2 separate regions of the Homo sapiens genome follow, and region 1 is linked to region 2. Evidence: fine-mapped expression QTL. A gene starts in region 2. The other region holds a variant in brackets. All regions are shown on one strand. Distances are between the middles of the regions. Region 1 holds the start of MIR4775 (microRNA 4775). Region 2 holds the start of CCNYL1 (cyclin Y like 1).

Region 1 (2,911 bases), 44 kb before region 2:
TGCTATCAGGATTTATTGAGAATTGCTAAAGCTGAGTGGCTAGACTCTTAGTTCTAAAGAAACCTAATAGTGACTTGGTATATTTTTAACTGAAATGTAAGCTTGAAAATAGCACATTAAAGTCAAATTATGTGGCTTAAGACATCCTCTCAACAGCAACACAAATTCTAGTTCCTGTCTTTCCATTCTCTTTCCTGTTTGTCTGAAAACCTCAAATACCTCTTGTTCTAATTCTACGCTATTCCTTTAATTCCTTTCTCTTTGATACATTTTGCTTAATTTTATATTCTAATGTGCTTTTCCCTCTCAGACACGATAACCAACTATTCAAGATGCCATCTAATGCACTATGCCATTAAGTATTGTGGTCAGTGATTTTAAGTGTAATAAATTATCTTCAGGTTGAAAAGAGCATATGCAAAAGAAATGGATCACTACATCTTAACTAGAGGCATGGATCAAATCAACTTATGGTTGGTTTGAAAATGCTTTAAGACATATCAGGATTGACTTAAAACTAGGCTGGGCAGAGATGTAACACTATGTGGATAGAAGTGTTACAAACACACTAGCCATATTTTAATTAAAATAGAGTTTATTAGCTTTTAATATAAACATGAGAAATAAAAACCACATAAATTGTAGCATTCTTTTCAAAATAAAACTGCAATCAATACTTGAATCTCCAAACTCTGAATTCCATAAACAATATTTGTTTTTTTGAGGTGGTAGATTGTAATATTTGTATACCATTATTTATCATTTATGTCTCTGTCCTTTAAAAATGATGGAAACTGCAGCACAATATGATGTGAAGCATTGCTATAATAGAGGAAGTACTCCTGTCCCAGAAATGCTTTGTTTATAAGCAAGATTCCTAGGATTAGATTTGAGAAAGTAGGAGAAACAGATTTCACATAGTTGAGAACACTAACCTCTTCTTAGTATTTCAAATTTAGGTGACATTATCGGTCTCCTAAAATTATTTGCTCCTTGCCTTTTAAAGCCTGAAGAGTTCCTAAGGGTTATGTAAGTATTTCTTAAATAGCAGGACTTAATGGGACACCTACAGCTTGGTAGCATGTAGGATGATAAAACAGCTGTTCATATCACCTTCTATAATTAGGGTCCAATTCCTTTTATTACATGTTAATTAACACTGCTCTTCAAAATCTTCCTTTAAAGAAACTGCGGTAATCAAAGCATATAGAGCACAGCTCTGCGGGTAACTACTTTTAAAAAGAGGGCATTTTATGGAGATACAAGGTATTCCAAAAGTTCAGTGTAATTTTAAGCTTTGATACTTGTAGAAATATAAATGCTACAAACCTTTACAAAACCTTGTCTGAACATTTTTCTTCTGCTTTTTTCTTTGAGACAGGGTCTGGATGTC[G/A]CCCAGGTTGGAGAGCAGTGACATGATCATGGCCCACTGCAGCCTTGACCTCCTGGGCTCTACTGATCCTCCCACCTTAGCCTCCAGAGTGGCTGGGACTACAGACACATGCCACCATATCCAACTATTTTTATTATTTTTTTTTACAGGCAGGGTCTCACTATGTTGCCTAGACTGGTCTTGAACTCCTGCACTCAAGCAATCCTTCCACCTCAGCCTCCCAGGGTACTGAGATTACAGGCATGAATCACTATGCCCAGCCCATTTCTTTTGCATTTAATTTTGCATTTTTCTAAGAGATGGGGTCTTGATAACGTTGTCCAGGTTGGAGTGTAGTAGCTATTCCTATAGGCACCATCATGGTACACTGCAGCCTCCAATACTTGACCTCAAGCAATCCTCCAGCCTCAGCCTCCCAAGTAGCTGGGACTATAGGCGTGCACCACCACACCCAGCTTCATTTTGCAAATTTTGAATATAAAGCTTTTAATTTTTTGTTTCAGTCAATGTCTGCTATCAAGAGTGACCGAAACAAAAAATTAAAAGCTTAATATTCAGGAGACAGGTGCCAGTTGCACTTGTAGTCCCAGCTACTTGTGTGGCTGAGGCTAGAGGATGGCTTGAGACCAGGAAGTTCTAGGCTGCAGTGAGTGCACAATGATTGCACCTGTGAAAAGCCACTGCACTCCAGCCTGGACAACGCAGTAAGACCCCCATCTCTTTAAAAACAAACAAAACAAAACAAAAAACTTTCAAATCATGTTTTTTAAAGGTTTATAGCATTTATACTCATGCTGCAGTGCCTTGGAGGGCCCAAACTATATTCAAGCTTAAAACTGCTTCACTTTTTCTCATCGTCACTGAACCACCATGTTGGTTGGCATTATGAAAATATCTTTTAATACATTTATTTAGCAAGAGAAAAATTATCAGAAAATGAGAAGCACCATTTATAGTTCACAAGAAATGCAACATGGACTCCAATAGAAGTAGATATCAATAACTGATACTTCCTCTGTTTATGACCCCAAACATGCTAAAATGCTAAAGTAATGCTTGCAAAGAATATGAATGACAAATGTTATCCAGCAGCTTTTTGGTTTAAAATGATTGCCAATGACTAGCAGCTTCAATGGTAACAGTAGGGAGGAAGAACCCTTCAGTACCTAACAACGCTGCTGTCTGCTCCTAAGTGGCTTTAGTTAGAGTCCCATGTTTTAATGGTAATACTGCATTGATTTTAAAGGCATATGCAGCAAAATGCGGGGGGAGGGAGAGAAACTGGAAGAAACATAAAAGTTATATGGTTAGTGTCTTTAAAGTCTAAAAATTTAAACTATTGTTTAAAAAACCTTACATAGTTCACAGCTATCGGCCCACACAGTAAGCAAATATCTGTGTGTAGGATGGGAGCCTTCACTTTGGAGTGGTTTTTGTAACTCTGTTTACATTAAAAAGGACAGAAGAGTGTTTTGTTGCATTGACAAGGTCCCATTCTTTCCTGTGGAGTATAATCCT
Region 2 (2,911 bases):
AAACAACTTGTCTGCACCCCTGGTAATAACCTCTCACACCCTTCACAGTCATTTTACGCCCCTCCCCCCATTTTCTTTCTTTCTGTGTTCAAATTATAGTTGGAAGGAATAAAGCAGCTTCTTTCACGCCGACTTAACCTATTAGGAATACCATATAGTGTCTCCTATGGCAACCTCTATTTTGAGTCTAGATAAGAAATCCTCAAACATCTGGGTCTAAACTGTCGCGGGCATCAGCTATCTTCACGGATGGGAGGAAGGAACAATCAGACCCTTACCTGGTTCCTTCACTTAGGTACCATCTGGATGGGTTAAGGGAGGGAATGGGATGAGTACTCCGAAGTTGAGGTATTTGAGTTTCCATTGAGAAAAGGAAAACAATATACCCCAAAAGTCTTAGCAAAGTCCCACCAGACAATGAACAGAGCTACAAACAAGAAGGGCGGCGGACTAGAGGGTCCCACGCCGGCTTGGGAGAATGGGAAGCGGGAGCAAGAACTGGGCGTTACGGTAAGGAGGAGGAAAAGAAACTGGCCAGACGCAGCAGGGCAAGAATAAGGGGTGGGGACGCGAGGCAGAACCAGCCTTCGTCCCGGGGCCGGCTACCGGCAGGAAGGAGCCCGAGGCGGCGGATGCCTCCCGGGGGACTCTGGGGGAGGAGGCGGGCAGAGGTGAGCCCGAGGGCGGATGGCATCCGCCGCCTCCTTACCTTCGGGCATCTCGCGGTCGCTGATGTGCTGCAGGTGGTGGCCCTCGCCCTCTCCGAAATCCAACTCGGCAGGCTCCACCACAGCGGGCGCTACCGCCACCGCGTCCCCGGACACCGCCTCGTAGATGTCGGACGCGCAGTACAGCTCCGCCGACCCCGCGCGCCGGCCCAGCTTGGGGCTGGCATTGGGGGACACGCAACAGGTCAGCGTGTTCCCCATGGGAAGCCTCCGCTCCTCTCTGCCACCGCCTTCGCTCGCCCCCTACTCCGCCGCCCTCAACAGCCGCCCCCTCCCCCAACAATGGCGCGGCCGGCACCGGCAGCCCCGGGCTACGCTGGGGCTGCACCGCGCAAGCAGACGCCGCCTCGCCCGCGGTTCGCCCGCCCGCCCCGCGGCCCGGCCCCGGGCAGGGCTCGGGCCTCGGCCGCACCCCCACCGCCGCGCTGCCGCCGCCTCCCTTAAGCTGACTCGTCTGCGAGGGCGGTGACCAGCCCGGCTTATTTAAAAGGGGTGGGGAACCCAACAAGCGCTGTGAAGCACAGCCACTGCCGGGAGAGAGCGCGGCTGGAGCTCCTCCTCCTTCCGCCGCCGCCTACCGACTGAAGGCCGCTGGCCCTGGCCGGTGCCTGCCAACCGGAACGCGACCTGCGGTCACCTGGTTAGGAGGAACCAATCATGGTCAGAGTTCCCCCTCCGGCGCCCGCCTCGAAGCCAGGCACGTGACCTGCTGCCCCGCCCCCGCCTGGCAGCTGCCCAGCCCCTCACGCCGCTATCCCAGACTCGGGTTTTCATTCATCGCTGGCTGCTGGGAGCTTTCCGGTCCTACTGGAAGCGCACGGGCATTTGTAACTGGAAGCTGTGTCAATGATCTCTGTAGAAAGCCGTTATTAGTAAAGAGTTCGCTCCATTAGCAACTCTTCTTCCGAGTCTGACAGCTTTCGTTTGCTCACTAAACTTGGTTACACCCAAATTGTTAACTGTTTTTGTAACTCAGTGCTCCGCTCCTGTCTTCCAATGAGCGTTAGTTTTCACCTGCAACGTGATCATAGCAACCCTGGGGCCCTGGTCCTACTCTCCATAAAGAGTTGTGGCTGTGGGTCTTGAATGAGACTCGAGGACACGTCACCCTTCCACTTCCTCATCCATAAAATAGGGACCTAACTCGTCCCTGCCAACTCTGAAATGCTGGGACTCGCCAACTCCCTTTTCTTGCCTGTTTCTCTCCTCTAGGCAGGGACTTCCAGGTTTCTCTTCTTGTACTAAAAACAGCACAGAAAGCACGATTTTCTCACGCAAAACTGAGAACCATGCAGTGGGGCACCACAGTCTTGATTCCATGAAGATGAATAGTTACCATTTGGCAAGCACTATGTGCCAGACAGTGTTCCAACTGTGGTATATTTATTTAACCCTTAAAAACAATCCCGGCCGGGCGCGGTGGCTCATGCCTGTAATCCCAACACTTTGGGAGGCCGAGGCGGGCGGATCACCAGGTCAGGAGATCCAGACCATCCTGGCTAACACGGTGAAATCCCGTCTCTACTAAAAATACAAAAAATTAGCCGGGCATGGTGGCACGCGCCCGTATTCCCAGCTACTCGGGAGGCTGAGGCAGGAGAATCACTTGAACCCGGGAGGCAGAGGTTGCCGTAAGCCGAGATCGCGCCATTGCACTCCAGCCTGGGCGACCTAGGCTCCGTTTCAAAAAAATAAAACATAAAAATAAAAATAAATAAACAAATATATATATATACACACAATGTCACTTCCTCCCTAAGCTTGATTTCTACCTTTATTTTCTGATCATCATGATCAGGGACCCTCACCCTGAGCAGTCATGTAAGCTTGCGGAAGTAACTTAACTTCTGCGTCCCAATTTCTTCTATAAAACCTGCAAAATGGGATTGTTTTTTTTTTGTTTTTTTTTTTTTGAGACGGAGTTTTGCTCTTGTTGGGCGCGGTGGCTCACGTCTGTAATCCCAGCACTTAGAGAGGCAGAGGCGGGTGAATTGCTTGAGGTCAGGAGTTCAAGACCAGCCTGACCAACATGGAGAAACCCCGTCTCTACTAAAAACACAAAAATTAGCCAGGCATGGTGGCGTCCACCCATAGTCCCAGCTACTAGGGAGGCTGAGGCAGGAGAATCTCCTGAACCTGGGAGGCAGAGATTGCAGTGAGCCAAGATCAGTCCACTGCACTCC

Evidence for each region.
Region 1: its variant is fine-mapped to the expression of CCNYL1 in whole blood (TOPMed, PIP above 0.99).

Annotation. Positions count from the first base shown.
Region 1 is chr2:207,753,841-207,756,751 of GRCh38, reverse strand. CCNYL1 (cyclin Y like 1) reads right to left here. Exons shown (of 10, transcript NM_001330218.2): 10 at 578-2,911. It overlaps MIR4775 (microRNA 4775), which reads right to left and starts at 1,945; the gene lies at 1,871-1,945. The variant G/A (reference allele first, on the strand shown) is at 1,394.
Region 2 is chr2:207,709,915-207,712,825 of GRCh38, reverse strand. It overlaps CCNYL1 (cyclin Y like 1), which reads right to left and starts at 1,186. Exons shown (of 10, transcript NM_001330218.2): 1 at 710-1,186. The coding sequence starts at 929. RefSeq lists silencers at 363-522, 535-644, 1,065-1,514 and enhancers at 386-1,382, 1,735-1,784, 1,795-1,994.